Regions from separate parts of the Homo sapiens genome. Here regions 1, 2, 4 and 5 are each linked to region 3. Evidence: fine-mapped expression QTL. A gene starts in region 3. Each other region holds a variant in brackets. All regions are shown on one strand. Distances are from middle to middle. Region 1 overlaps LOC105378316 (a long non-coding RNA gene). Region 2 has its middle 4.0 kb from the start of TFAM. Region 3 holds the start of UBE2D1 (ubiquitin conjugating enzyme E2 D1). Region 4 holds the start of LOC105378316 (a long non-coding RNA gene). Region 5 overlaps TFAM (transcription factor A, mitochondrial).

The links.
Region 1: its variant is fine-mapped to the expression of UBE2D1 in whole blood (INTERVAL, PIP above 0.99).
Region 2: its variant is fine-mapped to the expression of UBE2D1 in whole blood (INTERVAL, PIP above 0.99).
Region 4: its variant is fine-mapped to the expression of UBE2D1 in whole blood (INTERVAL, PIP 0.93).
Region 5: its variant is fine-mapped to the expression of UBE2D1 in whole blood (TOPMed, PIP above 0.99).

The regions. Positions count from the first base shown.
Region 1 is chr10:58,448,383-58,454,988 of GRCh38, reverse strand. All of the region lies in intron 1 of LOC105378316 (a long non-coding RNA gene), which reads right to left. Among named protein-coding and RNA genes, the nearest start is that of BICC1, 61 kb to the left of the region's middle. The variant A/G (reference allele first, on the strand shown) is at 3,337.
Region 2 is chr10:58,378,496-58,384,230 of GRCh38, reverse strand. No RefSeq gene overlaps it. Among named protein-coding and RNA genes, the nearest start is that of TFAM, 4.0 kb to the left of the region's middle. The variant G/A (reference allele first, on the strand shown) is at 1,875.
Region 3 is chr10:58,331,707-58,338,312 of GRCh38, reverse strand. UBE2D1 (ubiquitin conjugating enzyme E2 D1) reads right to left here and starts at 3,307. Exons shown (of 7, transcript NM_003338.5): 1 at 3,088-3,307. The coding sequence starts at 3,111. RefSeq lists a silencer at 2,923-3,442 and enhancers at 3,250-3,544, 3,143-3,643.
Region 4 is chr10:58,433,792-58,440,397 of GRCh38, reverse strand. LOC105378316 (a long non-coding RNA gene) reads right to left here and starts at 6,472. Exons shown (of 5, transcript XR_945984.3): 1 at 6,357-6,472. The variant T/G (reference allele first, on the strand shown) is at 3,676.
Region 5 is chr10:58,395,748-58,402,152 of GRCh38, reverse strand. It overlaps TFAM (transcription factor A, mitochondrial), which reads right to left. Exons shown (of 7, transcript NM_003201.3): 7 at 2,933-6,405. Among named protein-coding and RNA genes, the nearest start is that of TFAM, 14 kb to the right of the region's middle. The variant G/A (reference allele first, on the strand shown) is at 4,302.

The DNA.
Region 1 (6,606 bases), 120 kb before region 3:
ATGCCTTTCCCTCCCCTCTCTACCATCTGTTTTCTTCAAGGTAGCATATAATGGAAGTCCTGGATTTAAATTCAAGCTGTGTAACTTTCCAAAACTCTTTTTCAAAATATAAAACAGAATAACTGACATTTAAATATTTTGTATTTCTGCTACCTAGAATGAGCTGTATGGGAAGTGATAGGTTTTGACATCCAGGCTTCAGGCTTTGAGGTCCAGCTTCCAGTGGTCACTGCCCAGGAATGGTTGGCTTAGAATTTAGAATATAGGTTTTACTACTTCTTTATCTGCCCAAACCGTATGGAATTTATGGTCTTTGTTTAGCATCTTCACAGATTCCATTCTTCTCATCGAAATACCCAAATGGTATTTTCTAATAGTTCAATACCCTGTTGTTGCCAAAATTTTCAATCTATCCCAGAAGCACATGCCAACTCCTTGGTGATGGGTTTGTCTACCTACAATTTAAGGACAATTACAGTGTATTCTTTTCAGAAGTTATTATTGGTTATTGAGTCATTTCCTAGTGGAAGTGGTTTTTTTCTTCTAGGTCCTCTGGATTCATCATGAGGTATTTGCTAGCTATCTCTTTGCACACAGCAAAATGTGTGCCTGTGATAGAGTATGACTTTTTAGAATGTTCACTAGGCTGGAGTTCAAGACTCAACTTTGTCACTTCCTAGTTCTCTGGGAGGCAGTATCTATGAAGGAGGAAATTAGCCAGCTAGCATTTGAATCCTAGCTATTCGTGAACTGGATGACTTCTAGCTGATATCAAACCCTTGCTGAGTCTCATTTTTCCCATTTGCAAAGTGAGAATGATAATGTCTGCCTGGTAGGGTTTTCTGTGAGTAGTAAATGAGGTACATGTCTAGTACAGTGCTTATTATATTATAATGGGCATTCAACAAAGGCGACATCCATACCAGCCCTTAAGGCACTAATGACCCCAAAAGGGTTGAAATACTCACATGCCCATGGGGTCCAGCACAAAACTGAAGTGAATGAGAATAAGTAAAACAACACTGCAACTGTGAAGGTACAAGGCAACTAAGAGTTGGCCTCAACATTGGAAAGAAAATAGGGAGTACTTATGGCAAACTGAGGAGGGTGTGTTTTATCTAACACACCCACCACACCAGCCCACTGGTGCCCCAATAAGGACAAACACGTATTGACAGATCTTCTGGTATTTCAAACGAAGCCAGAAATCAGACTTTTAGGTAAAGTCTCTCAATTTTTAAATATTGGCTCACTGAAAAACAAACACATACACAAACAAACTTGGATCCCAAACAAAATATTCCTATAGGCTTAATCCAGCCTACTGATGGGGAGGCTCTGCTCAATCACATTCACTTGACATCACTTAAATCTCGAGCTCATATTGCTCCCTAGCTCTTTTATATTACTATGTAATTTTCAGCGCTCAAGCTCTGTCTCCAATTACATCTGTTAAGCCACTTGAATAAGATATTTGAGAGCAGGAATAGTGTCTTGCTCAGGAAATATCCACAGCTGGTAAACTCTCCTTTGGGTGATATCCTTTAAGATCTTAAAATGGGTTGCTTCCCTCCAGAAGAACATGTTGACTTCTTTTTGCCTTGAAATGGGAATACAACAGCTGGCTGCCTCTGGGAGGTTGAAAATAAACAGGTTCAGAAGCTCTGAGAACAGCAAATGGGCGTTGTAGGTGGAGAAACAGCCCAAAATAAATACAGCTGTTGAGGTGGAAAATTCTATTTACTTTGGCTGTTTCGAGGTCTACACTGAGGAAGGGAGAGTTGCTATTCCTGAGACTCTCCATATACTGACAATGGGGGACCCACTCGGGGCTGGTCCCCAGTGCAGGACACATTCATACTCATCATTTCAGTGCATACTTGATGATGAGCACATCAACTGGGTATCTCAAATGAGGGAGGACATTTGTTAAAAATGAAAATGATGAGTGAAGGGCTCTGTACTGGATGGCCTATATTAATGTCTTCCCTGGCTTGGATTGTAACTCACATTGAACATTCCTTAACAATCAGGTTTTGTTTGCTACATAGACCTAACAGAAAAGACGCTAGCTCGGGAGGCAAAAAATCCAGCCTCTAGCATCAGTTTGCTAACTAGTTGTATGACCTTGATGAATCATTGCAATATTCTGGGCTTCCATTTGCTCAAACATAAAGTGAGAGATTGAGAGAGAAAATCTCTAGGGAGTCCGTGAGAAGAGTGGAAAGGGTACGGGATGAAGACCAGAAGGTTTTCATTTATGCCCTGACTCTGATAACTCTCTCCAGTGTGACCTTGGATGGCAAAACACATAATCTGTAAATCTCTGTCTTTACCTATGCCAGGCAGGACTAAGCACAGCCCTCTTCCCAGTATTGCAACTGTGAATGAGAAAATAAAATTTATGTGAAAGTGCTTTTCAAATGGATGTGTGAGTGGCTCATGCCTGTAATCCCAGCACTTTGCAAGGCTGAGGTGAGCGGATCACCTGAGGTCTGGAGTTCGAGACCAGCCTGGCCAACATGGTTAAACTCCATCTCTACCAAAAAAAAAAAAAAAAAAAAAGTTAGCCTAGCATAGTGAGTGGCATGCACCTGTAATCCTAGCTACTTGGAAGGCAGAGGTGGGAGAATTGCTTGAACCTGGGCGGCGGAAGTTGCTGTGAGCCTTCAGTGAGCCAAGATTGTACCACTGCGTTCCAGCCTGGGTGACAGAATGAGACCCTGTCTCAAAATAAATAAATAAATAAACAAACAAAAATCAAATGGATGTGTGAGCATATTGATATCAGACAGATCTAGTTTTCAATTCTGACTGTTACCAATTCTGTGTGCTTATGGGCAGGTGAGTTAAGTTCTGTAAGCATCATTTTCCCGATAATTACAAAATGAAAGTAATATCTACTTCATAGGATTGCTGAGATGACTAAAGTAAGTTAAATAATGTAAAAAAAAAATGTACTAGAGCAGGGACAGGCACAGAGTGCTATAAATAGTAATTACTAGTGCTAGTAAAAACACAAATGATATTGATATAAAATCTCCATCTCAAAAGCCTTATTCTGATCAGCTAAATCTTAAACTTTTTTTTACAATTTGATCTGAACCAAAATTATTTTTCTCCCTTTACAAGAAAAATCATTACAAAACAAAAACAGTGATCCAGTTTAAGTTGAGAATGAACTTAGTTGTTTTCTGAAGTCCACAAGAGAACAGAGCCAAAACATTCAAACATTCTGACCCAAGCTTAGCGTGCTTGCTACACTGAGGTAAAACATTAATGGGAAAGTCTCCTTCAGCCAGGAAATATCACCTTCCCTTTTTCAGAAGGGAGCCC[A/G]TGGAAATGCTTGGGTTTATAGTGGTGGAGGAAACAAAACCAAAAATCTCAGACAGATACTGTTGCAGATTGTGTTCTCAGGGCAGCATTCCAGACTTCCGTAGAACCCAGCTCACAGGAGTAAACTCTTTGTCTTAATGGCTCTCCAGACCTTGCCAGTATCAGAGGGGACACTTGAAATCATACTGCATCCAGATGGCAAGAAACATCTTAAAACTCTCATCACAAGACAAGTGAATTAATCATTCATTTAATCATTGATTTACATATTCAAAACACAGCTATTACTGGTCTAATATGCCTAGCCACAGTACTAGCTCCTGGAGCTACAAAGCAAAGTCCTTTCTCTCAGTAATTATCTGAAATTCAAAGATTCTCACACATATCACTCTGGGGCTTTACAATGTCAGAGCTCTTGTGACTAAATATCAATATACATAAAACAATATTAAATGTTTCTACTTTTCACCATGGATATCTTACAGCTAAAGAGATACCCCCCATAGAAGAGAAAGACTATATACATAAACATGTTTGTGGTACATTATTTATAGTTGTAATAATATAAATGTACAACAAGTTGAATAATAGTTTAAAAGTTTGGGGTGTATGAAATGATGGAATACTATGTAAGACATTTAAAAGGACATAATTACAGATATCAGCATGATGAAAATTGCTCATTCATGCGAGATGATAGAAATAATGCAAAATTATGATGTATCGAAGACCTTCAAACTTGTGTGTGGTTGTAGCTATAAAACATATACATTTGTTTCTAAATAAGGCCTGGAAGATAAAACATTTTTAGTTATATAAAGATAGTGGAATTTTTGATAATTTTTTTCTATTTTCTAGACTTTCTATATTATTACATGTGTCAGCGAAGTAAGATGTTGACACCTGCTGTGATTTGAGTGATGGGAGAAAATGTTTCTTATCCTTATAAGTATCTCTTTCAATCTGTACACAGGGGTTATCAAGTTTTTCTTGTTTTTTCATTTTGTTTTGTTTTTTGAGACAAGGTCTCTCTCTTTCACCCTGGCTGAAGTGCAGTGGCGCAGTCACAGCTCACTGAAGACTCGAACTCCCGGGCTCAAGTGATTCTCCTGCCTTGGCCTTCCAAGTAGCTCGGACTACAGGCATGTGCCACTACACCCAACTAATTTTTTTATTTTTTGTAGAAATAGGGTTTCATTATGTTACCCAGGCTAGTCTCAAACTCCTGGGCTCAAGTGATCTTCTCACCTCAGCCTCCCAAAGTGCTGGGATTATAGGCATGAGCCACCCACACCTGGCCGGTTTATCAATTTTTAATTATCTTTCCAATCTGGTCCCTTTCTACATTCTCATTAATGTTGCTTTAGCTCAGCTTCTCATCTCACCTGATTCCTGCAGTAAGTAGCCTACTAACTCACCTCTGTCTTCATTTCCACACTTCCCAGTTGCTTCTCCCAACCACAAGCTTCTTATCCTCAAATGTTCAGTCCTGGTTTAAACAGCCTTCTCCAAACACACCAGACATGCATATGTATATTATGGTGGTACCTCAAATTGTTATGATCCCTGGCGGTACGGATTTATGGACAGCACAGAAAGGAAGCTGTTTAGCTTCCTTTCCTCTCTTCCACATATCCTCTCTTTGGTATGGCTAATTTGCAGTTCCTTCCATTTAGAAGGACCTGAGAGGTAGAAAAGTATACTGGATAAGACTTCAGCTTCTACACAAGAATAGCTAAGACACTGAAGAATTAAAATAAGGTAAGCGTTTGTCATGCAAGATCTAAGACTGATCAGAAGCTAAATAAATACAATAATCAGGTTATTTGCTCCCAGTAATGATTCAGTAGCTCCCATCAAACTAACTCTCCACATATAACCACAAAAAATCTAGGCAAAATATAAAAAACCAATTCCCTGGAACAACTGGAAAGCAACTAAAAGCAGGCAGAAGCTGGAGTGGGGGACCTGTACTTAGATGAAGGAAATGGAACTGGGTGAGTTATCTATTCTTTAATGGGTCTTTATTTGAGGGTAGGCATTAGTTGGCTAAATCTCAAATAGAAGTCTATAATCTTAGTGGCTTGAAATATCAAATAACAGAGTTTGGGAACCACCACAGCAGCTAAAAGTGAGGGGAGAAGTCCAGGAAAGGAGACAACCAGAAAGGAGAGTCACAAATTCTGCATATAAACTCTGCCCAAATCTCTGGCTGACCCCTAAGCTATGCGTGTGTAGTGCAAATCCTAAACAGCCTGCTAAGGATAAAGGAGTTAAACAAGATTTCACCTTCAAGGTAGACTGAGTTAGAAGTTAGAGTCCAGCAAAGTTAATTGTAAGCAAATTCAGCACTGTTCAGAAGAATATAACAGAATTCAGAATCCAAAATATCATTTAGAATGTCTAGGATAATCCAAAATTATAAAGAAAAAAATAGAATAATTAGAATAATGTGAAGAAATAGGATAATGTGATGCATATTCCAGAGACAATCAATCAGTGGAAACTGGACAGATGTTGGAATTAGCAGAAAAGGATTTTATTAAAACTATCCTCAGAAGCATAGAAGAAAATATGTTCATAATGAATTTTAATTCTGCTTTTTAAAGAAGAAAATCCTCCAGCAGAGAAAAAGTTACTGTTGTTTAAAATGGAAATTCTAGAACTAAAAAATATGTCTGACATTTTTCAAAAGAAGACATATATGCAACCAACAAGCATATGAAAAAATGTTCAACATCTGTATTTTCATGCTGCTGACAAAGACATACCAGAGACTGGGCAATTTACAAAAGAAAGAGGTTTAATGGACTTACAGTTCCATGTCGCTGAGGAGGCCTCACAATTGAGAGATGACAGCATGCTGACAGCCCTCGCAGCCCTGGCTCGCTCTTGGCACCTCCTCGGCCTCAGCCTCCACTCTGGCCCTTCAGCCCGCCGCTGCACTGTGGGAGCCCCTCTCTGGGCTGGCCGAGGCCAGAGCTGACTCCCTCTTCTTGCGGGGAGGTGTGGAGGGAGAGGTGCAGGCAGGAACCGGGGCTGCATGGGGTGCTTGTGGGCCAGCAGGAGATCCCGGTGGGCTGGGCTCAGCAGGCCCCGCACTCAGAGCAGCAGGCCAGCGCCGCAGGTCCTGGGCAGTGAGGGGCTTAGCACCCGGGCCAGCAGCTGCAGAGGGTGTGCCGGGTCCCCCAGCAGTGCTGGCACTGCTCTCAAATTCTCACCGGGCCTCAGCTGCCTCCCCGCGGGGCAGGGCTTGGGACCTGCAGCCCA
Region 2 (5,735 bases), 46 kb before region 3:
CTTTTATAGACTCCCAGGGTTGAAAGGGACCTTCCAAGTCATCTGTTCAAACCTCCCATTCTGGCATGGAATAAACAGGTTTTTTTCCTGAGTATATACTATGTACAACGCCCTAAACATAGATAAAAGACACAGTGTTGTGCCCCAGCCCACCCCCCGCCCCCAGCCCCAAAGGTGAGGCAAAGTAGCAAATAATTACAACATGGGGCTCAGACAGAAGTTACATTTAAGTTGATTTCTAAAATAATTTGTTTCCCTTTTTGTTCTAGAATGTTTTTGTTCTTTCAAATGTTTGACATAAACTTCTTTTGGATATTAAACTTTTTGTTGTTTTCGACTTTCATTTGTATAAATCTTGCTGTAAAGACCTTAAAAATCAAATCCATAACATTTTTCATCAGATACCAATCTTCCTTAAAACTCATTTACATTGCAGTGATAATTTTACTTCTAAAAGCAGAATTTACAAAGAAACATAACTTTATCCACTAAAACTGTCTTTTAACAAAAAGACATGGTATATAATTACTTTATAAAACATGAAGACTTACTGCAGCCTTTCCCAGGGTCCCTTTGTTGTAAAGTTCTCTAGTCCCATGACTTCAGCTATTAGTTATAGCCTCATGACTGCCATATTGAACCCAGTCCTCTCCTTTGAGTTCCGTATCCACATAACCACTGTCTTCTGTACATTTTCACCATCATGTCCCACAAGTACTTCAATTTCAACATTCCCTGAACAAAATCCACTATCTTTCACCCATCTTGAAGTCCTTCTCTTGGTAAGATGCACATGTTTTCCTCTTTAATCATCTGAGCCAATAACTTGATAAATCATTTTAGAATCTCCCCATTGACACTCCACCTGCCATTAACCAACTGATGATGAGTATTGCTGATTCTGCCTCATTCATCCCTCTAGTATGTATTTCCTTCTCTCTAGTCCCATTGCTGTTGCTTTTGTTCAGGCCAGTAATATGCTGGTAAATAGCTCTCCAAAAAAGAAAGCCCCAATTTGTGGTGTTTGCTGAGTTCTATGGTGTAAATACTCCCACCATTGGCAGATTTCATGCTACTGACAAATTTTTCTTTTCCTGTTAACATGCAAACATACATATTACATAACCAGCATTGCTCCTTTCTTCCTGTTGAACTTTTAATATTTCTTAAATTAGTAATATTTGAGCAGACACATTGTGGTAGTTGATGAAAAATTAAAACAACACACCCTGAAGTTGGATTGCACTTTAATATTTTCAGAAATTTTTAAATAACTTTATTTGACTGTATGATTCAAATATCAAAGGAAAAGGTAGAGAAGGTATTGTCATGATCATTATTCCCAATTTCCAGATGAGAAAAATGAAGTTCAGAAAGCCCAACTCATAAGCTTCCAACAGTAAGTTGTGTAGGTAAAAATTGCAATTCATTGTCCTGTGCTTTTCGTTTGTATCAGATCACTCAGACTCAGTGAACATGCCACATCATTCCAGCCCAAAATATCTTTAGTGGATCATCTATAGTGTGTGAGCTCACATCACTTACTTGTGACATCATGTACCACTCTGGTTTCTGATCTTTTTCTCTATGTATACATATTTTTTTCCACAATAGATGGTAAGTTATATTAGGAAAAGACTAAATCTTATGCCTTCTTTTATCCCCTATTGTACCTAGCACAGTACACTGAGCATGATAGATGGATGAAGGGACAAACGGATGGATAGGTGAACTGACAGATATATAGATAGATAGATAATAGATGACAGACAGACATATAGATACACAGAGAGAGATGAATAGTGTGAAAAGATTAGCATCTGCACAAATTATTTATATATAAATTTAGCCCCATAGAGAACAACTACCTGTTA[G/A]AAGTGTCATTTGCCAATAGAAGGACACATTTGCCAGTGTGTGGAGATGGAAACCATGTAAAATTCTGAAATATATATACACATGAAAGTAATGATTATGGTTCATTGATACTTGCACATTGGTAAAGCAGAAGGTAGTGCCAATAAACAGCAGGAGCAGCCAGAAACCTGGATAATTCCCTGCTGAATAATGGAGTTAGATGCACAGATATCACTCAAATGAAGAAAAAATGTTGCTAAGAGAAAGCAGTCTTGGCTTTTGTAATTATAATAGATAAATAATTTAGCTACAACAGGAGCAATTACCTAATAGGTTTTAGCAGGATAAATAGATGTGATTCTGAACTTGTAAGTAAAATATCTCTGGAAATAAGATCATACTATGGACACCACATTTAAAGACAATTTCCTCATAAGCAATTACAAAGCACTGTGATAAGCACTTGAAAGGGGCACAAAAAGCATAAGATATTGATCCTGCCCCAAAGAGCTGACACTGTGATTGGGGGAACAAAGCATAAAGACACAAAAGGAATAAAAGTATAACAGTGCATTGCAGCAATGAGAAAAAATTTTACACCTTGAATATCTCCTAGCTTATTTTTTCTGTGAGTCAAGATTTTAATAAATTATGTATGGAAAACTACTTGTATAATTTTTTCTTTCAAACCATTTTTATTGACATAGAGTCTGTTTTCATGCCACTGGAGTTTGCCTTTAAAATCAATATACAAAAAGAAGGAAGGGAAAGAGAAATAGAGAAATTAGAAGAAAGACCTGTTGCATGTTAATAGTTCCCAGCTACCCGAAATTATTATTATCTGTGAAATATTTCTCAATTAGAACAAAGTCTGCATGCAGCCTTAATTATTAAGGGCATATCAGAATTATTTTAAGCCATTGCTGTAGCAGCATTACAAAAAATAAATGTAGCTTGTCTATTTTAAAGCTGATTCTATGAGTCAGCAGGAGGTAGGACAAGCAAAAAGAACAGCTATAATTTTATGCAAATGTATAATACCCCAATTCATATTACTGGATGTTACTGAAAGCTGACTTCATATTACTGAAAGCTAACTTAAAGATCGGAAGAAATCCAGAATGATTGTATTGAAGGAATAATGCTGTTAATAGGACAATATAATGTGTCTGCCCTCATACCACGGTAAAGTATCTGATCAATACAAATGGTAATAATTATAATTTATTGCTAAACTACATGCCAAGTATTTTACATACATTATCACTAATCCTTTCATAAATCCTCTAAGGTGCTATGATTTCTACTGTACAGCTATGAAAACTGTATAAATAATAGGAAGGATATCTTCCTTGTTAGCATGTTAATAACAAAAATTGCCACCTCTGAATCCACAGTTTGCAGCTTTGAAGTTATATATGACTCTACGTAGATACAGGATAGGTAAATCAGTCATGAAGCGGTAGTTTTCTTAAACACCTGCTCACATTCTATTATTTCCAGTCCCCATAAATGCTTTCTTATTTATCTGAGTGGCTTACTAAAATAATATCTTAAGCCAGGGCAATGGCACATGCCTGTAGTCCCAGTTACTTGGGAGGCTGAAGCAGGAGGATTGCTTGAGCCCAGAAGTTTGAATCTAGCTTGGGCAACATAGCAAGACCCTTTCTCTTAAAAAGTATTCAGTCACCCAAAAACATAGGTTTGAATTTAAAGAACTACACATACACATATGCATGAGTGTGCGTGCAAAAGTAAGAGTGCAGAATAGTACACAAAATTTGGTTTAATAGTGATTGTATCTGAGTATTGCAGGAGTGCATGGGTGGTACTCATTTTTTAATTTATATATTATCTTAGTCTTCTTGTAAAACACAATAGTAATATTCATCTTTTAGTGATAATTTTTTAAAAACTCAGTTCCTAGGAGAGGCCAATACTGTGCCAGACACTGTGCTAAGTTCTAAAAGTACATATGGTTGGGTGCAGTGGCTCACGGGGGAGGATCACTTGAGCCCAGGAATTCGAGACCAGCCTAAGCAACACAGTGAGACCCCCGTCTCCATAAAATAAATAAATAATACATACAAATACGATTAAGGCCCGATCATCCATTTAAATTTACCTGGGAAAGCAGGGGATGGCTTCATAGAGTAGGTGACATTTGAACTGTTTTTTCGAGTGGGGAAAGGTTGAGATGCCTTCCAGAAAAGGAAAACAGTATGTGCAAGTCACAGATATTTATGAGGGCATGGTATATGTGAAAAGGAGTGGTATGAAACAAACCTCTTTAAATTTGAGTGGGGTTGGGTTGTAAAGGACTATGTATAATTTAAGTTTGTTAGGAAAATATAGCCAAACAACTTTTTAGGCAGGTTACAGGCACAATTAAGTTGTTTTTATAAAAATCCCTTTAGTAGGAGCACAGAGAATGATGGGTGTGAGAAGACTGTTGCTGTAATCCAGGAAAGAGGGTCTGAGATTCTGAAGTAACATGGTGCCATGGCTCATACTCCAAAGGCCTAAGTATAATGGGCAAGATTCCATTGACTGGTTAAGTACATAGAACACAAGAATGACTTTAAGGATTCTACCTTGATAGACTATTCCAATTCCAATTGCATACTCTGCTAAGTGAATATCCCCAAGCAAATGCTTTCATTATATCATTTGGCTGGTTAAAAACTTACACACTTCTTACTTGCTATCGAACCAAGATTTCATATCCAGCAGATCTATGTTCTCCACCTAATCTTTTCTCTCATTCATTGCACATGGACTGCCAGTGCCATTCTCACTTATTTCTACTTTATTACCTTTGTTTGGCTTCTCCTGTTTTCATTAATGCCTTCCCTACTTAAATATGCCAATTAGAACCCTAAGTATCTTCCAAAGCCTAGTTCATTCATTTGTTTAGTGAACAACTATTTAAGTACTTGTGTGCCAGACACTGTAGATCCCAGCAAGCATAAAGATGCACACTGGGAATCATGGTAACATTGATGAGAACTATTATTACCTCAACAGCTAAGAAAAGGAGTGACATAAAAATTAGAGATTTAAAGGATAGGGAAAGAGGGCATTTTGAGCGGAATGTACAATTTGACCAAAATCTGAGAATGAGAAGCACCATTCTATACTGGAAGTGGGGAGAGGTTGGGATCCAGTGAGAACTGCAGGCAGTTTGGTGGGAGTCGGGAATGGCAGATGAGACTGGAGATGCAAGCTAAAATTTACCACAAGAGTCTTAAGGACTTGATACTTTATTCTGTTGGTTCATGATTTAAACAAGGGGAAAGAACCTGAGAACCCAAAGGGTCCTGATATACGTATCAGATAAAAATGAGCTTCACTGTTTGAAGTTATAAGTGGGTCCAAGTTAAAGTCAGGGTCCAAAGGCTAAACCATTAGCATCTCCCTTCTTTTTTCTGTAGGTCCCTCTGCAAAACCACTGCTGAGTCTGTGGGGAACTATTTAAAAATGTTAAAGCTGATAACCCACAAGATCAGATTTGGGGTTAGAATACTTTCACACTTCTGTGGATGATGGACTTGAGGGTAGGGAAAAGATAGGATGTTGTGGTAGTACCATCAAAAAATGAAGAGGTAGAGATTTCTGCTTCAAGAAATTCCACTGAGAATCAGAAGAGCTGCATAAAATAAAACCTTATAATTGAGAAAGTGTGAGAGAGCTGCAGAAGTCATGAGACTTTCAGAGGTGAGCTGAGTATCTGTGGTCATTTTTCTCCTGGAGTACAGGTTAGAGGCTGAGAATTTGGGCTTTATGCAGGCAGAGGAGCACTGCTGAAGGACAGAGTTTTTTGTGGTTGCACAGAGCTGGAGTGACAAAACTAGAGACTTAAGGAACCTCAACATACAACT
Region 3 (6,606 bases):
GTTAGTTTATTCTACTATAAAAATATATTTTAAGCATTGATATCTCCATGCTCTGTCTTTACATATAATTTTAATCCAATCATCTTTATTCTTTTTCATAGTGAAGAAATGTGAAATCATGAACTTTTTAACACTCTCAAATAGCCAAGCCAATTAAGAGATTATTGGCCGGGTGTGGTGGCTCACACCTATAATCCTAGCACCTTGGGAGGCCGAGGTAGGTGGATTGCCTGAGCTCAGGAGTTCGAGACCAGCCTAGGCAACACGGTGAAACCCCATCTCTACTAAAATACAAAAAATCAGCGGGGCATGGCAGCATGCGCCTGTAGTCCCAGCTACTCAGGAGGCTGAGGCAGGAGAATTGCTTGAACCCAGGAGGCAGAGGTTGCAGTGAGCCGAGATCATGCCACTGCACTCCAGCCTGGGAAACATAGCAAGACTCCATCTCAAAAAAAAAAAGAGATTATCTTTGGACAAAGCACTCCTCCACTCCAGGCCTCTGGATCCTTCCTTGAATAAGGACAGGCCAGAACATCAGTGGTCCTCAGTCTTCTTTCCACCCCAACCGATCTGAGGGATTCAACATCTCTCCATTTATAGAAGTGATGACAGTCTGAAAACGTCCCACAGGTGATTCTAAGACACTGCCTTAGAAGCTGTTCCCCTGCTTGTACCCTCTACTACACTACAGCAGACTTATCTGAGGTTCCACACAACTCTATGGCCTGCCACCATCTATAGGTACAGGAAAATTATATTAATACTTCAGTGAGCTTAAGAAGAAAGGCCAAAAGTTAGTATACATCTTCATTTGTTGGAACATGAAAGATTCAAATAAGAATTCTATACTGATGACATCAAAGAAGATGGTGTAACTGTTCATACGGCAGGCGGCACATCTAACCTAGAATTGGCTTCTAATCAAGGAGGTAGGTAAAGGAGGAGGAAAAGTAGGGAATCAATCAAAATAATCACCCCTAAGGTTTGAGGGATTGGTCTGAATGTGTGATTAATGGAAAGAAGATTTGTGTAAGTCGATTTTCCTGATATCAGAAAGGGAAGCCAAAAATGAACACACAGAGATGTGATGGTGTGTCATCCCCAATTTCTTTTCCAAAATATCAATTTGTCACATGTTTGATATCAATTCTATGTAAGTAATTTTTTTTTTTACTCAACAATTCTATAAACTAATAACCAATAAATACTAAAAAGATTTGGACACACGCCATATTATAAATATAAATCAAATACACTAGTTCAGCATGGTGATTGATGAGAACTGCCAAGGGTGGTATTTACAAATAATGTTCATATTTCTTTGAATATCCACTTACTGTGGACAAATTATACAGCTTAAGCTATTGTTAGTTGGGTATGGTGACTTGTGTCTGTAATCCCAGACTTTCTGGAGGCCAGGAGTTCAAGATCAGCATGGGCAATATAGTGAGATCCCCATCTCTTAAAAAAACACAATGAAATTTAAAAAGCTCTTGTATGTGCAAAATCATGTGAAAAATTCTCACAACTAGGAAAGAAGGAAATAGAATTTGAAAACTTCCTTGGAAGATGTGCATTTTCTGATCCAAATGTGAACCAATATTACTTCGTCATTAATAAGTATGCAAGGTATGGTAAAGATGCTAAGGCTTCAAAATTAGGGTATTTATATAAAACAATGTGTAATTGCGCTACCTTCAAACAAGAAAACATTATTACTTAATAAATGCTGATGCTGATTGTTAACTGTATGTTTTACAATGAGATGACCTTTAAATGGCACAAAAAATAACAGGTGATCCACAGATTTAGAATTTGAAAATAAAAAACTGGCAGGCTCTAAAAGTTGCTGTCCTCTGTACCTAAAGATGTCACCAGTGGCGAGTCAGAATGCAATGCGTACGTCACTATCACTGCTCTAACATATACTATTGCTATAATGGACTCCTGGTCAAAAAAGTGGATAAAAATGTGGGCATCAATTTCTTCTGAAACAACTACAAAATACACTGTCCATTGTTGCTTAACTTAGTGAAAAGCACTCCCTATTTAACAAACACATTCTCAATGTTGCCAGTGTGAACTGTAACTGTAAAACCTAAAACTTGGGTCAGTACACAGACCAACAAGAAATAAAAATGAACAGAAAGAAATGCCCGAATCTGAATTCTGAAGGATGTTCGCATCTGAAATGGTGGCAATAAATACTGTGAAAAAAAGACGATTCCATACACAGGGTTGAGATGGGTAAACAGTTGTTGGATGAAGATATATATTTCTTCCTCATTCTATACCCATGTGTCAAAGCATCAAAACAATTTATTTGCGACAGTTTATGTTGTGTCTCGAACTTTACATCTAAGTTTATCATGAGGGGGAAAAAAACCTGTTTGGCTTGACTCACCGTGAATCACAGCCAGGAGGTCATCTTGTTGTGTATCAGCAACTATGTTTTCGCTACAGCTATGTGACCTGAAGTGGCAGCAGCAGAGGCACCAAAATAGAAGGGGCAGGAGCCTTCTCCTGACTTCTTGGCCGCAAATGGGCTTTCCAGCCCATTCGGGCAACTGAGCAAGAGCCAACCGCAGAGGAGAGAAAGAACCAACCCGACAGCTCCGCGGAGAAAGGCTGCAGGCCCACCCCACCTTCCTTGCCCTCCCGGGGAGGCCGGGTAAGCAAGAACATAAAAGAGGACAGGCTTAAGAAACAGCCTGGAGAAAACACAGCATGACAGGGGTCAAAACTAGCCCCATGGAGGGCAAAACCCGGCCGTGACCGTGAAGCACAGATTTCGGGACGGTCTGGACGCGCAAGAGGCTCTCTACCCTGGGGCTCCGGGAGCGGCTCCGGCGCGAACGCGCGCGGGCCCCCAGCCTTCAAGCTCCTCCGGCCGCCTGGGACCTGACCCTGCTCCCACCTCACCTGTCCGATGCCCGCTGGCCCGGCCCGAGCCTTCAGCTCCCTGCCCGCACCCCGGCCCACCCTTCCATCCCTTGCTCTCCCCGCATGTCTCTCGGGACCACTGGCCGAGTCAGCGTGGGCAGGGGGCCGCTGCCCCGCAGCCCCAGGCCCGGCCCCGGCACTCACTTTCTGAATCCTCTTCAGCGCCATGGGTCAGGGATGGCGGTGGGGACACCGGCCGGCAGGGGTCGGCTGCGGGGCTCAGGGGCGTGGGTCGTCGCGGGTTGGGCTCGCTGGCAGCTAGGCTGGCTCCGCGCGGTGGGTCCCCGGTTAGCCGCTCCCTGGCTCGCTCCGGGCGCCGGTCCCTGCTCCGTGTGCGCCCGAGCGCGAGTGTGCGCGAGTGTGCGGGCGGGGACGCCGGCGAGACTCTTTTGTTTCCGCTTTTGCTTCTGGGAAGGAGCCTGCGCCCTCCCCGCCGCGCCCCGCCCCGCCTGGCACACTGGGAAGTGTAGTTCCAGCCCTGTCCTCGGCTGCAGGCCCCCGGACGCTGCCAGGTAACTTACTGCTGACCTCAGCCAGGCAGCTTAAGGTGAGAGCTGCCGGGGGCTGGAATTAGCCTCTACAGTCTCATTTAGAGCAAATTGCTGAACCTGGGGCTGCGCATCTGTAAAATGGGGATAACAAATGAGCTCCTAACGCACATAAAGGAATTTCTAAATCATCAGTTAGTAATTCCTTATCCAATAGGTGCCACAGCTGGTTTTATTATTTTTACCTTTAAAGATTTCACTGTCTTTTCTCAAATATATGGATTGTCTCACTCACCCTGCACACATGCACAAACTCATATCAGACCCCCTACTTACCTCCTTGGTTCTTATTGCAGAGGAAAAAGGTGTCTCTTCTGTCCAATGTGCAAATCTTCCTTGTCTGAGTGCATTGTCTGCTCGTAGGTATGCCCCTCCCATAAATTACCCACTTCGAACACCGAGTTCTGGGCTCTCACTCCCATCATTGGTTCCTTCCCTTCCGTTGACAGTCCCTGACCAATAGTCAACTCACGCTCCCCACTCTCCAATTCCTATGCACTTGTGTACCCATTAAAACTTGGCTTCTTGGCCAAGATGAGATTTGGGTGGGGACACAGCCAAACCATATCACTCAGGGATATAAAGATGGCAACAAATAGACACTGTGGACTACTAGAGAGGGGACCGAGGGAGCAAAGGTTGAAAAACTGTTGGGTACTATTGTCAGTACCTGGGTGATAAAATCATTCATACCACAAATGTCAGCATCACACAGCATACCCAGGTAGCAAACTTGCATATGTGGCCTCTAAATCTAAAATAAAAGTTGAAAAACAAAAACAAACAAACAAAAACAGAATCTTGAGCCCCACTCCAGACATGCTACATCACACTTTGCAGTTTAATAAGACTCCTAGGTGATTCAGATGAACATTAGGGTTTGAGAAGCACTATGCTGGAAGGCATAAGAGGAGATCCTAAAAATGCAGATTTCCTTTAAAGGATTTAATTTAGCAGTAAGTTTTGGGTGAAGCTCTGGAGTCTAAACTTTAGAACAAACTTCCCAGGAAGTTAGGATGCAGGTATCTGAGGACACTTTTGAGAATCTCCACCTTGAGCAAATCTTCAAATCCTTCTAAGCCTCAATTTCCTCACCCATAACTAATGCAATAAATGTTGTATTTGTTTAAAGGGAATAGAGCTGAAACTTTTGGTGCCCTTCTAACTCAAAGGTCTATGATTTGCACAAAAAATGGTGATTTTTTTCTCTTCTTTATAAATAGAAAGAAACCTAAAAAGTAAGCTTACAAGATTATTTTTGTCTTTCCTAGGGCAGTTTACCTCCCAACAAAAGAGAAATTAACACTTATTAAAAAAATCTACGTTGGTATCTTGCAATAATAGTTTACACTTTAAGATTGCTTTAAATGGGCTGGGCACAGTGGCTCACGCGTGTAATTCCAGCACTTTTGGAGGCCAAGGCAGGTGGATCACCTGAGGTCAGAAGTTCGAGACCAGCCTGGTCAACATGGTGAAACTCCTTCTCTACCAAAAATTCAAAAATTAGCCAGGCGTGTTGGCACATGTCTGTAATCCTAGCTACTTGGGAGGCTGAGGCAGGAAAATCGCTAGAACCTGGGAGGCAGCAGTTTTACTGAGCCGAGATGGAGCCATTGCACTCCCGCCTGGGTGACAGAGTGAGACTCCATCTCAAAAAAAAAAAATTGCTTTAAGCTTTTCAAAACATTTCACACACATTTTTGCAACATGCAAATACATGTGCAACATATAGTAGTTCAGTGTGTTATTTAATCTCCTACTCTTTCTCCCAGGATGTAGTTTCAAAACATAGTTTGTGATCAACTGCATAACTAATTCAAAAATGTTACTTAATGCTTACTATATGCCAGGCACTGAAGACACATGATAAAGAAAATAGACAAGATCCCTACTCACAAGCAGAACATCAAAATCCTATGGGGTGGGGAGGAGGGTACAAGACTTGTTAAAAATGCAGATTTCTAGGCATCAGGCCACACTGTCAATAAATAATCCTTGCCCTCTGAATTATCTCTGTTTGGGATATTATACTGCACTAGGTGGTAAAATATATGCAAAAGAAAGATTATATTTGGTCTTACCTTCCATAAACTTAAAATCTTCATGGTAGGAAGATAAATGCATAAAACAAATAAGTAGCAATGCAAGATATTCATTCATTCAGTCAGTCAGTCAGTCATGCAGACAACAGCAACAACAAATTTCAGGAAAATTTCCTTAAAGCAAAACAAATGGTGCAGAGGATAAGGGCTAAAGATGTTCAAAAGGGCATTGCCATGGACGGAGAGTAAGGGAAACTTTGTAGAGACAATAGAACTTGAATGCAAGACGCATTTGGAAAAGCAAAAGAATAGGTGAAGAACTTCCAATCGTAAGGAAATGCATGTGGAATGGACATAAGTATGAAATGCTCAACATGGAGGCCAAGCAAGGAAATACAACTAAGTCCAATGGTTGAGATCAGATAGTGAAGGACATTGACTGTTAGTCTTAGAAACATGAAATTGAGCTTAAATGCAACAAGAGGTTGTGTATCAGGAGAGTATTATTGTGACAGTGATGCATTAAATAGACAATTAGTCTAGTGGAGGGACATGGAATGAGGACAGAATCAGGAAAGGGAAACAAGTTCAATTACTATTGCAGTATTTAGGACCAAAATAATAAGGGCCTGCCTGTACAAGGTTGATAGCACTAGAAACCCAAAGAAGAACTTTTTGAGAAAAAAAAAAAAAAAAGCCATGGAACTTTGTTGCAATTACATACAGAAGTAGAAAAATAGAAGAGTAAATATGAACTCTAAATTTATGAGTGGTGGATTGAGTTAAAGGTGTTAACATTGATAAGCTTTTGGAGGGGAGAATGGTAAACCGAGCTTAAGACATACACATATATGAAATGTATGTGGTATTCAAGTGGAACTTCCCTAGTGGTAGGTAGAGATATGGGGCTGAGAATATGGATATGAGAGCAATCATGTGAGAGAATGATTTTGAAACCGTAAGATACAAATTGCTTCCCAAAGAGGAAAGGGGAAGACAGAGAAAAGAGAAGGCACTAGAAAATGGGCTTTGGGGAGCAGCAACAGTGAAGACCTATGAGGAAAAAGATGGGT
Region 4 (6,606 bases), 100 kb before region 3:
AGAACATACAAGTAAATTTTGATTGATAGTAGAATTGAAGGTGGGTGCAGTAGGCAGAATAACAGTCACCCCCAGAGATGACCACATTCTAATCCCCAGAAACTGTGAGAATTAAGGTTGCAGATGGAATTGAGGTTATTAATGAGCTGACTGTAAAAGAGAGAGAGAGAGAGTATCCGGGATTATCCAGCTGGGCCCAATGTCATCACAGGGTGCTTGGTGAAAGAGGAAGTGGGAGTGTAAGAGTCAGGGTAAAATGTGATGGCAAAAGCAAAGCTAGGGGGACACAATGTGAGAAGGACTTGACTGGCTATCGCTGGCTTTGAAGATGGGAGGGGGCCACAAGCCAAAGAATGTGGGCAGCCTCTAGGAGCTAGAAAAGACAAGAAAATAGATTCCCCTTGAGTTTCCAGAAAGGAATGCAGCTGTGCCGACACCGTGGTTTTTATCCCAATGATATAATTTCAGACTTCTGACCTTCAAAACAATGAGATAAAAAAATTGTGCTGTTTTAAGCCCTACATTAATGGTAATTGTTACCACAACAAAAGGAAACTAATACAGTGAGTCAGCATAAAATTTTGGAGAAAGATCAGAACAGGTGACAATACTGGTCCGAGTAAGGGCAGATCAAGGTAGATAGGACTCCAGAGTGGTGAACTCTGGGCCTCTAGAGGGCAACAGGAAAGTATTGAGCACTGGAAGATAGGCATGATAGACCTATGAAGGGGAAAAGGGTCCTGAAAGAAGATAGGCTGTGACCACCTTGACTAATTTCATTGTATTCCTAAATACAAACCCTGGGGAAGGGTTTCCTTCCCTTCCCCACTTTGTTGTTCACTTCTATGCAGTATTCTTTGCCACACTTCTCTCTCCTGAATCCTGATACTGCTAATTGCATTGTCTCCTGGTTGAAAATATAACATGAATGTTCCTAGCATTGTACTTATACTGCATTGCAAGTATTTTATTTATGCTAATTTTCCTTTATTAGACAGTGAGCTCTTTGGGATTATAATCTTATGTCTTTGTGCTGTTAGTGCCTGCCACAGTATATGACTAGTAAATTTGTGATGAAAGGAAGGCTGGAAAGGAACCTCCATCTTCCCTGGATATCCCAGAGAAAGAGAGTTTTTCCTTCTGGAATTTGGCAGAAAGATTCATGAGGGACAGGTAGAGACTTGCTGGGCAGCCAAGAGAATCAGTAACTTTATTGTTCCCATCAGGTATTCTCATTTCCTAGCACGAGCCCTGCCTGTATCTTACCTGAACCATAAGGTATGGCCTTCCCAACCAGTGCATGGGCTGCAAATCTGGAACATTTCTGAGGTTTGACTACAACCTATTCCTACAGTCCTTGAACAAGCACCATCCACAATCAAACCAATGCAAGTTTTATTTGTGTAAAAACTCTTAGCCAGAGTTCTTTAACTCTCAGTTATATGATTGATTACCTTAAACCACACTAGCAATTGGATAAGGCATCAAAAACAGAAAAATCTGCTTATGCAGTTTTTGGATCTGAAAACCAAATGGAAACATTAATTTCTTAAAGCTGAAAGCAGTTACTGGATAAAACTCCTAAGGAATCTTGAACAACCTATTGAACCAAAACAACATCCTGTCCCACAAACGCTTTCAATTCATGTTGTGAAATAAAACAGACATCGTGTTTTTACCCTCAGAACATTAAACATAGTATTGAGCTTCCAGTGCTATGAAATAGATATACAATTTCAGAAAGTAGATGAATAAGTCTCCAGTTCTGTTGAAAAATAATTATGGCTTAATGTTTATTTTTTTCATGTTGAACCTATTGCCAGCTAATTATTTCAAAATGAATCTCTTTCCCAATCCTCTGGAAAAGAATGCTTGGTATGTTTTGATTGGTCAGTGTGCCATCATGCATTTTATGAGCTCTTTGCTTAATCTGATGTTAATGTATTCTTTCCAAGCAAGGGAGAAAGCCCATGCCCAGAGGTGGAAGCAGTGGCACCTGAATTGCTCAGCTGATATTCACTGATAAGAAAGCGACCCTGTCCTCTTTTTTGGTCATATTCTTCCATAATGCCTTCAATAGCACCATGCATTTCTCCATCATCACTGTCTTTGCACACATTCATTGTCTGAATGAGTAATAACCTTTCCAAGGTCTATCTTCCCTGTTATATTGTAAGCTCCAAGAGGATAAGCAACATGTTGGTCATAGTCCATACCCTATTTCTAGTGCCTAATACTGTGCTTAGTATATAGCAAGCACAATTTTAATATATTATGAGTTAATGAATGAATGAACAGGCCCTTGTCTCCTTCCCTAAGGGCTAGGCAGTTTAATCCTAAGACAACCAGGTGCTTTCAAAAATAACTCTTTCTGAACCAATACAGGTGACATGGACATTTTCTTAATATATTATTCTCTAAGGAAACATTTCTTCACTTGTTCCACTACGCTATGTAAACACTCTTATCTGGCAATCTCTTCAGCATGTATACATTTAACGTGTATTTAGTATTTTTCTTTTCTAACTTTTTATTGTGCTTGTATCTTATCAAATCATATTATTTATACGTTTTTACTGTGTATGCTCCTAGACTTCCTCTCTGCCTGCTCTGATCTTTGGATGCTGCAGGCGAAGCACCTTACCTGTCCCAGCTTTAGATTCCAGCATTAAATGCTGGCATTAAGCCCATACCAGCCCTTGGATAGGCAGAGATCAGATACTGTTTGACATTAACAGAGAAATGAGATCCTAATGAGGACACTCTCAGGCACCAATATGAATTAGCATGGAAATGGCCAAATTCAACCTTGAAGTTCTGCTCTCTTTTCGATTTCTTCTTCATATCAAATAACCATCAAAAAGTAAGTAAACTTTCAAGGGAATGATTTGTTGGGTTATGGTCTCAGATTTCAAGAAATAGGGCTTCTAGGGAAAAGCATCGGCACGTGTGATGTCATGAGAGGAGGGGAAGAGGAGGGTCTAAGGCAGAATGCCGCCTCTGCTCAAAGATGTTATTCATTTTATACCACATTTCACCTCTTCCCTCATGCCTTTCTCCAGTCTTCAAAAATGTGAATTTTGGTCACTGTTGGCCTTGCCTCTTATTGCAAAGAAAGTTTTGTCATTTAGTGACTGGGAAATAGCCTGTTGTATGAATTGTATTTAAAATTATTGTGCAACTGGGACCATAAGCATGAATGTATAAGGGTTCACAATCTTCCCTCTCTGTGACTGCTAGCTTGTCTCCAGGACTCTGTGAAGCTAATCAGGCCAATGGGTAGAAAGATCTGATAACTGGAAGATAAGATACAGACTGGGATTTTTTTTTTCAATCTTATAAAGAGACAAATTTATTTATTTTTGTGTTTTGTTGGGAGAGAGGGAGGAAAAAGACCAGAACCCTGAGTGCAATGCAGGGATGAGAAAGAGATTTTGTGAGTTGAGCAAGTCTTTGAAAAAAAACTTCAGAGTGATGGGAAATAGAAAGAAAGATGCAGAAATAATTGTTAGGATGTCTGCTAGATATTCTTCTGACATTCTTCAAGAGTCCCTGGTAAATATTTGAATTATTTTCCAATTAGTCTTGGTGTTCAAAGTTGTGTTTATTTGAATGTCATATAAACTGGACCACATGGGTCAACATATTTAAATTGACTTCTTTTATCCATATATA[T/G]AGAGAAATCAATATTGCAGGTAGGTGAAACCCAACCAATCAGAATTTTCTTAACTAATTTAACTTGTATTTTCCTTGAGAACTCTTAAGAGAAACAAATAAATGAAAGACAATTATTTCATACAAGAAATTCTGTTAGAATACACACATATGCAACTGTTACAGAATAGAAACACACTTCAATCTTTAATACTTTTTACAGACACAACTCTAATCAGTAACATGAACATTCGACTGAAATTTAAAATGGTGGCCCTGAAATACTTTTTAAGTCTCAATTTTTGTACGTACTAAAGAAAGATAATCAAAAGATATTTTTGGCATGAGACCCAATCCCTTCTGGCCTGAGGCATTGTTATGAAAGGTAGTTTGTTGCATACCTGTCTGGCTACCTAAAGCCACTTCCCGTTTGCCCCAAGAACACTGTGCTGGCAGTGAGCCACATTTTTTTCCAAACAGGAAATGGGTTAAAGACACAGCATGCAATTCTGAAGGGACCCCAGATCAGCAACTTACGGACACATGTTTGGAAAAGGAAACTTCACTTTGATGCATCAATCATTTTTCACTCTGTTCCTTTTCTTTAAAAGACGGGACTTTATGAGCAGTACCTTAAGGAGAAGCAAACTAAGATTTCTCTGTGCTCTGAGGAAACTCTAAAACATTGAAGGGCAAAACAACTAGATTTTTATCTTTCCCATTGGAAACTTTTTCTCAAAATGACCCATTCCTATCAGGCCTTTGGGGCTCCTCCTCAGGTATGTTTCTATTCTCTATTAAGACAAAGGGGCAGGCTCTCACACCCACACAACACTGATAGACATCACTTGTGGCCAGATTTTTTGTTTGGGTTTTTTTTTTTTTTTTTGCCTTCTTTAACTTCTGTTGAGAAGAAAGCCCTGAATTCCAGCTTCCATCAATTGGCTGTCATCCCAGGCCACACAATTGGCAAAGCCCTGCATCCTAAGACCTCCCAAAAACAGAGAAGCCTGGGGATCTGAAACAGGTACCACTGATTATTTTAGCTGTAGAGGCCTTTTGTTGTCATTTGCCACTGTTACTTACACAATTCTTTAGTCGTGACTTTTAAGTCTCTCACTTGGTCTTTTTTCCACTGAAGTTTTATCCTGATTCATTCTTCCTCTTCCCAGACCTTGGCTTGTGACATCTCTGCTAGGATTGATATCAACACCATGGTTGTGTTTATGTCTCCCCCTGCATGCCAGGCTCACTGATGTGGTGAGTGGAGCTCTGGGAAGCCGAGCTGAGGAGGCTGAGTCATCAGTCATCATCTCTTGACTCCCTGGGTCTGACCAAAATGACAGAGGCTCCTCACACTAAAGTGTACTGGGAGACCACAGCAAAAAAGAGGCAAAGGACTTCTCCCATTTGACTCTAACCACTTTATAAAAGGTCACATTTTTGTCATAGCAGTAGGGAGATGTTAGTGTGGAAATCTCAATGCAGCTTCCATTCCATTTCGTTTTTCAGGCCACAGCTTAAATGACCCTTTCTAAATGGTAAACCACATTGAAAAGCTATTAAAGCTTAATATAGGCATACTCTGTGACCCAGCATTTTTAATTCTGAATATATATATATGCATATATACATTTATATGATATATTCATATAGCATATACATAATATATATAATAGAAATCCATTCATATGTTTACCAAAAGGCATGTACAGGAATGTTCATAGCAGTACTATTTATTTATTTATTTATTTATTTATAGAGACAGAGTCTTCCTCTGTTGCCCAGGCTGGAGCACAGTGGCACAATCACAGCTTGCTGCAGTCTCAAACTCTTGGGCTCAAGCAATCCTCCTGCTTCAGTCTCCCAAGTAGTTAGGACTACAGCTGTGCACCACCACAACTGGCTAATTTTTTTTTTTTTTTTGAGATGGAGTCTCACTCTGTTGCCAGGCTGGAGTGCAGTGGCGCAATCTTGGCTCAGTGCAACCTCCTCCTCCAGGGTTCAAGAGATTCTCCTGCCTCAGCCTCCCTAGTAGCTGGGACTATAGGCGCCCACCACCACACCCAGCTAATTTTTGTATTTTCAGTAGAGACAGGGTTTCACCATGTTGGCCAGGATGGTCTTGATCTCTTGACCTTGTGATCCGCCCACCTCAGCCTCCTAAAGTGCTGGGATCACAGGTGTGAGCCACCATGCCTGGCCCACCTGGCCAATTTTTTAATTTTTTGTAGATACAGGGTCTCCCTATATTGCCCAGGCTGGTCTCAAACTCCTGGCCTCAAGTGAACCACCCACCTCCGCCTCCCAAAGTGCTGAGATTACAAGTGTGAGCCACCATGCCTAGCCATAGCAAGACTATTGATATTAACAAAAAACCAGAAACTGCCTGAGTCTCCATCAACAATATAATGATATATAAATTGTGGCATATTTACATGATAACATACTGTATAGCAATGAGAATGAAAGAAATATAACTACACACAACAATATGGATGAATACCACAAACATTATATTGAGCAAAAAAAGCAAATAGAAAAAAAATACTGTATGCTTTAATTTACGTAAAGTTAAAAACTAGGCAAAATTACGCTGTTAGAAGTCAGGATAGAGATTATTCTCGGGGGTTAGGAGTGGAGTATGGGGAGGTCTTCTGCCCTTCTAGTAACTTTCCATTTCTTATGTAGACACTACTTACCCTGATGTGTTCAGGTTGTGAGCAAGTTATGCACTTTTCACTTTTTATGTTATGTTTTAATTAAAAACTTTTTAAAAAGTCATCTTCTCGTATGTGCTACAATATGGATGAACTTTTGAAGACATTATCCTGAGTAAAATAAGCCAGAAACAAAAGGATAAATATTGCATGAATTCACGTATGAGGTTCTTAGAGTAGTCAAATTCATAGATACAGAAAGTAGAACAGTGGTTGCCAGGGGATGGGGGGA
Region 5 (6,405 bases), 64 kb before region 3:
GCCTTGTTCTGCCTTTAGAGCCCTGGATACAATAACCTAGAGGGACCAGAAATCTATAGGTCTAGGTAGAGAAATGATCAAATTGAAGGAATTCAGCTCCTTCTTCAACATTCCCCATCTTGGCTGCCCAAAGAAACTTAAGCATAACCTTTTCTATCTTTCTCTACCTTATCTCTCACACTCCATCAATTATCAAGTCCTGTGGATTCAACTTCTCAAATATCTCTTGAATTAACCGAATTCTGTCCATCCTAACACGAGGCAATTGAACGTGCTGTTTCTCCTGCCTTTCCACAAATATAGAAGACTGTCAGCTGCACAGCAGCCACTCTCACTGGCAGGTTAGCCCACAATCATGCTCCAAAATTATGTAGAGAACAAATTTATAATCTGCCATAAGCAAGTTAATATGAAGATGCCACTGATGACACAGAATACTAGAAACTAATATACAAAAGCACCAACTTTAATTACAGATCCAATATATCCCTATCAAAACCCAGCTGGTTTCTTTACAGAAATTGACAAGCTGATCCTAAAATTCAGATGAATATGAAAGAGATCCAGAGTAGTTAAAACAATCTTCAAAAAAATCAAAGTTGGAGATCTCAGATTTCCTATTATAAAATTTATAACAAATTACAGTAGTCAAGACAATGTCATACTGGCATAAAGACGACATATAAATCAATGTAATAGAATTGAGACTTCAGATATAAACCCATAGATCTGTGGTCAATCGATTTTTCACCAGGGTGTCAAGACAATTCAACAGAGAAAAAATAATCTTTTCAACAAATGGTGCTAGGAAAACAGATATCCACAGGTGAAAGAATGAAGCTAGACACCTATCTCACATCATACACAAAAATTAACTCAAAATGGATAGACCTACATGCAAGAGCTAAAACTATAAAACAGAAGAAAATACTGGGGGTAAATCTTCATAATCTTCAATTTTGCAATGGTCTCTTGGATATGACACCAAAAGCACAAGCAACAAAATGAAATAGATAAACTGGACCCCATCAAAATTAAAATTATTGTGCTGCAACTGATACCATCAATAAAGTGAAAAAACAATTCCTGGAATGGGAGAAAATATTTGTAATTAATTTATTTTATAGTGGCTTTATGTCTATTATATATACAGAACTCCTGAAACTGTAATAAATGAGATAACCCATTTCAAAATGGGCAAAGAACTGGAATAGATAATTTTCCAAAGAAATACAAGTGGCCAAGAAGTACATAAAAAAATGCTCAACATCATTAGTCAGAATGTAAACACATCAAAATCACGAGATACTTCAAACCCACTAGGATGGCTATAAAAAAGACATACAATAACAAGTGTAAGATTGCCATATACATGATTCACTCATTATCAGCCACTACTGAACTGCCAGCTTAGGAAGTTAGGAAGCTCTGAGTTATAATACTACTCCCACCAATGATAGCTCCACATTATTAAATCTAAAGAACTTTTTTAAATGGCCAGTTCCACCCTCCAGATTCTGGCCCAGCTATCTGCATGCACTGACGGTTGATTCTACTCAGCCATAGTCAAGAATCACAGCACCCGGCTTGAAAAAAAAAACAAAAAACCTATTCTGCAGTAGCGTATCACTCTACTTTCCTCAGTTTTGAGTAAAATATTCACTGGGGAGAAAAAAGCAAACCTTACGTCTACTGATACCTACCCCTCTCCTGCCCCATGCACCCTGTAATTTCTCTCCAACCACCTTAAGGGCCTTTTTTTTTTTTTTTTTTTTTTTAAAGATAGGGTCCTGCCATGTTGCCCAGGCTTGACTTGAACTCCTAGGTCAAGTGATCCTCCCATCTCAGCCTCCTGAGTAGCTGCGACTACAGGAACCAGCCACCACACACCCATGTCCACCCACCTTAGGGTTAATCTTTGTTACTAGCCCTCACTACTCAGAATTGGTGAGACCTCTCCATTTCTGCTTCACTCAGCTTACGTGGTTTGCTCACACTGACACCAACAAACACCTGTCAATCCCTATGTCCCTCCTGTCTTCCAAAAATACCTAGAAATTGCTGCTCTATTGACGGTAGTATTTCTTGTTTTCTAGTGTTGCTATTATTTGTCTATTGTACTTGGTTTTGCATTTTAGTCACCTGAATGATATCTGGAAGAAGGCGGTTTCACCATTTCAAATCTTTTTTTCACCATTTTATTGTCATTCAGGTTACTACAAATGGTAAGTAGAAGCTCTGCAAAAGTAAAAACTGAGTGGGAGGAAATCATTTTGGGAAAATATTCTGAACTATTTCAGTCCAATTAATATTTGATACTAAGCTTCTACAGCATCAGATGTTACTTATGTCAGCATAAGGAGAAAATTCCTATACTTTAAAAAAGTTTCCATTACCCCCATCTAAATATTGCCTGATAGTCACAGTATAAATTCAAGCTTGGAAAAACTACTGGCATCACTAAGTATCCCCTGACACCAAAGTTCCTGTTCATCTTAGTTACACAACTACTGATGACCTGTTCTGACTGGTGACTGAGAGGAAAAAATAAAGAAATGAGTAAGATGGTCGGTAATACTTCAACACTTCCCAGTGATTAATACATTTGGACCCGTCGTCTCATCACTTAATCCTACCCAACATTTAACGCATGAAATTTCCAGTAAAAAAAAAAACAGAACCTCATAGATGGGTCTAATCAAAACTGCCCTTTCTAAAAATATGAAGGCTAGCAGTTGGTAACCTATATAATAAAAGGTCACTGTGTCAAAACTATGTACTCCTTTCCCTCTTCCCCCATTGTATACCTGATTTGTGGGAAGGGGGAGACGAAATGGGATAAATTTTAAATTAATACAGGCAAAAAAGAATAAAGTCAGAGATTTTCTTAGACATCACATATGTAAATCAGAAACCAATATATAAATGATGCTTGGTGATGAAAAAATGTTTAGTTTATTTAAAATTCCTGTTTAGAGTCAACTTTATTTACTGGCTCCTGTAACCAGTGAAACATTCTGAAATGTATTAGATAATGGTTGTATGTTTTATATATTTCATATCGAATATAGTAAGTGATTTAATCAATTAACAAAAGTCCTTTATTTGTGAACAATGAGAGAGACTGACACTAGCTTTGTATGGTTTTACTTTGGAAAATTTTACAAATTTAAAGTAATAAATGTATTCATTTTCTTACTCTGCAGAAGTTCAATTTTAAAAAGAACATTACTGTTCTAAAATTTCAAAACATACAACATAGTCTGTGCTTGTAACATTTTCAGATTTGTCTGTGACAGCTTGATGTTATGAAGAGAAGGAGGGAGAATGGCTGTGAGTGGAGAAAAGAGCGAGAGAATATTCTTATAGTAAATGTTAGTAAAATTAAGAGAAATAATGGGTACTGTCACTCACAATATAAAAACTTCCTGCTGTTTTAGCACAACCTGGTGGTGATAAATTTTAGATACAGAAAACATCAGAAAAATCAATAAAGTGTTCTAATTACTTTAAATCTACTTATTGTACGCTATTTTTTTTCAATTCAGAAATCTAAATATACACATTCAGAGCAATTAGTAAAAACTAACACATGCCTTGTACAAAAAAAAAGACATTTCCAAAAAGGAGTTAGCCAAACGCAATAGCGTAATTACAGAATTACAGCAAGCTGAATACGTACACAGTATTATTTAAGCAAACATCAGAAAGTAAAATAAATACACAACCCTCCTTCCCCTCATCAAATTACTTTTGTAAAACCTAACATTGGTACTCCAAAGAACAAAAGTATAAAAACTACTGTATGCCTATTCATGACAGTATACACCCTGCTTGATTTCATTTCTTCAGCATCTTTCCTTCTAACACTCAGCTCCTACAGCAACTACTTTGTTGGATGAAATTAAGAAAAGTCTAAAAAATAATAGCAAGGCTTGATGGTCTGCACCTATAATCCCAGCTACTCAGGAGGCTGAGATGGGAGGATCTCTTAAGCCTGGGAGTTCAAGGCTGCAGTGAGCCATGATCACATCACTGCATTCCAGCTTGGACAGAGCAAGACTGTGTCTCCAAAAGAAATAGTAAGGCTTTATGGTCAAGCATGGTGGCTCACACCTATAATCCCAGCACTTAAGGAGGCCAAGGAAGGAGGAACGCTTGATGCCAGGAGTTTGAGACCAGCCTGGGCAACATAGCAAGATCCCATCTTGATTAAAAAAAAAATACAAAAATTAGCCAGGCATGGTGGTGTTCACCTACTGTAGTCCCAACGACTCGGAAGGATCACTTGAGCCCAGGAG[G/A]TCAAGGCTGCAGTGAGCCAAGATCACACCATGCCCTCCAGCCTGAGCAATATAATGAGACTCTAACACACACACGTGCACACACACACACACACACACACAAATAAGACTTTATATGAGTGGTCATTGGTTATGATGTTCTTATTCTTTATAAGAGAAAATCTGTGTATACTGTTACAGCTGAATGGCATTTGGTATATGGCATGCCAGTCTTCCACATGTACTGATGTTTAAGAAAGGCTTGGATCCAGTGTGTATTCTGGATGTCGGGGGAAAAAAAGGCTTGGAAACCAGGTTATCCTATTATTTAAAATATTAAAAATTACATTATTTTAGAAACAGAGAACCAAATACAAGCTGATACTACCATAAAATTACCATAAAATAGTTTTGCTCTTTTTTCACTGTTTACACCTTTCCTCCCTATATTAAGTTGTTAAGTACTTGAGAAACGTACTTAACACTGAACTTCCCAATATATTTGGGAAGGTATGATATGAATGTTAAGTATAAAATAATACGGGTAGTTAATGTTAAAAGAACTCAGAGGAAATTTCCCCGCAGGGTAACTACAAAGATGTTTTCTATGCTGCATTTGTCCCGAGATGTTTATGTAACTCATTCCTCTATCTCAATCATTACATACCCCTCATTACAAACACTCCTATGTGCTCTCTGAGCTCATCTGAAGAGAACAGAATTGAGTCGATGATTTGAGTTATGATTTTCTCCATTCTCCTAGGGACTGTACATAATTAGTACCATTCTAGATGACACAGGGACTTAGGGCTTTTTCTCCTGCAAACCTAATTGAGAAAGCCTGTGATAGACACTAGCACACCTCCTTCTCTTTCCCCCTACTCCCAGACTGCTCTGGCCTCAAACCCATCCTATCTATTTCACCAATGGCCAACACTGTCCTGTCTGCACCCAGAGTGAGAAGCTCCCACAGGGAAAAGTTATTTTAAAATATCCAACTTTATATATTTAAAGCCTCATATTTCCTCATAAGCTACTATTTTTCTCTCCCATTCCTACCTTTGTCAAGCTCAGCATATAACAAGTCATCTTTTTGTGACATCAAAGTCTTCAAAGTCTTTCTGGAGATCTAGAATCTACAATTTCTAAATATTTTGCATAACGCATAAAGTGCATATAAATTGAGTTATCCTATATCTGTGAACTGATGAGAATTATTCTGCTCAAACAGGTGGTGAAAACCTTTGCTTGACTCTCCTAAAAGGATAAACAAATACTAAAGAAAGATGGCTTTCAACTACAGTGAGGTTCTTGTGATATGTGCTACTGGAAAAAGTACATTTTTACCAAGCCATAGCAAATAATTTTAAAAGAATATCATTCCACAGTATATGGATCTTTTTCATTATACTGCAATGTAATTTGAAACTAGATTATTTTCCTTGCTAACACTGAGAAGCAACAATTTGTTTAGATTATCTAGTGATGACCTTTTTCCTCTTAAAGGTGACAATGATTCTAAAACAAGAACATCTGAAAACATTTGAAAAAACTATCCCAACACTTCAATACATTGGAACAGTAGTCATATCACACTATACTATAGACCATGGGTTGATAAATTTTTTCCATAAACAGACAGACAGTAAATATCAGGCTTTGTGGGCTATAGTTTCTGTGGCAGCTACTCTGCCACAGAAAAGCAGCCATAGACAAGTAAAAGAATGATCTTGGTTGTGTTTCAACAAACTTTATTTATGAACACTAAATATTCATGTTAATTTTCAAGTATCATAAAAGTCTTTAAAAAAAAACATTTAAAATTATAAACACAATTCCTAGCTCACAGGCCATAAAAAGCAGGCAGCAGGCTGGATTTGATCCACAGGCCATAGTTGGCTGTCTCTTAAACAGGCTTTTATACGTTATGCAAAGTGTTTCAAATTCCAGAGACTTTGGAGACTTTTCGTTTTTTAGATTTCTCATTTTAAAACACACATAATACAAGTTTTCTTTCTGGATCAATATACTCACGAGAGAAAATAATTCAGAAAAAAATAAAATTCCTTACTTAAAAAAAGGGAAAAGCTATAGAACAAATGTTTCGTCTTAAAATATATTTAGG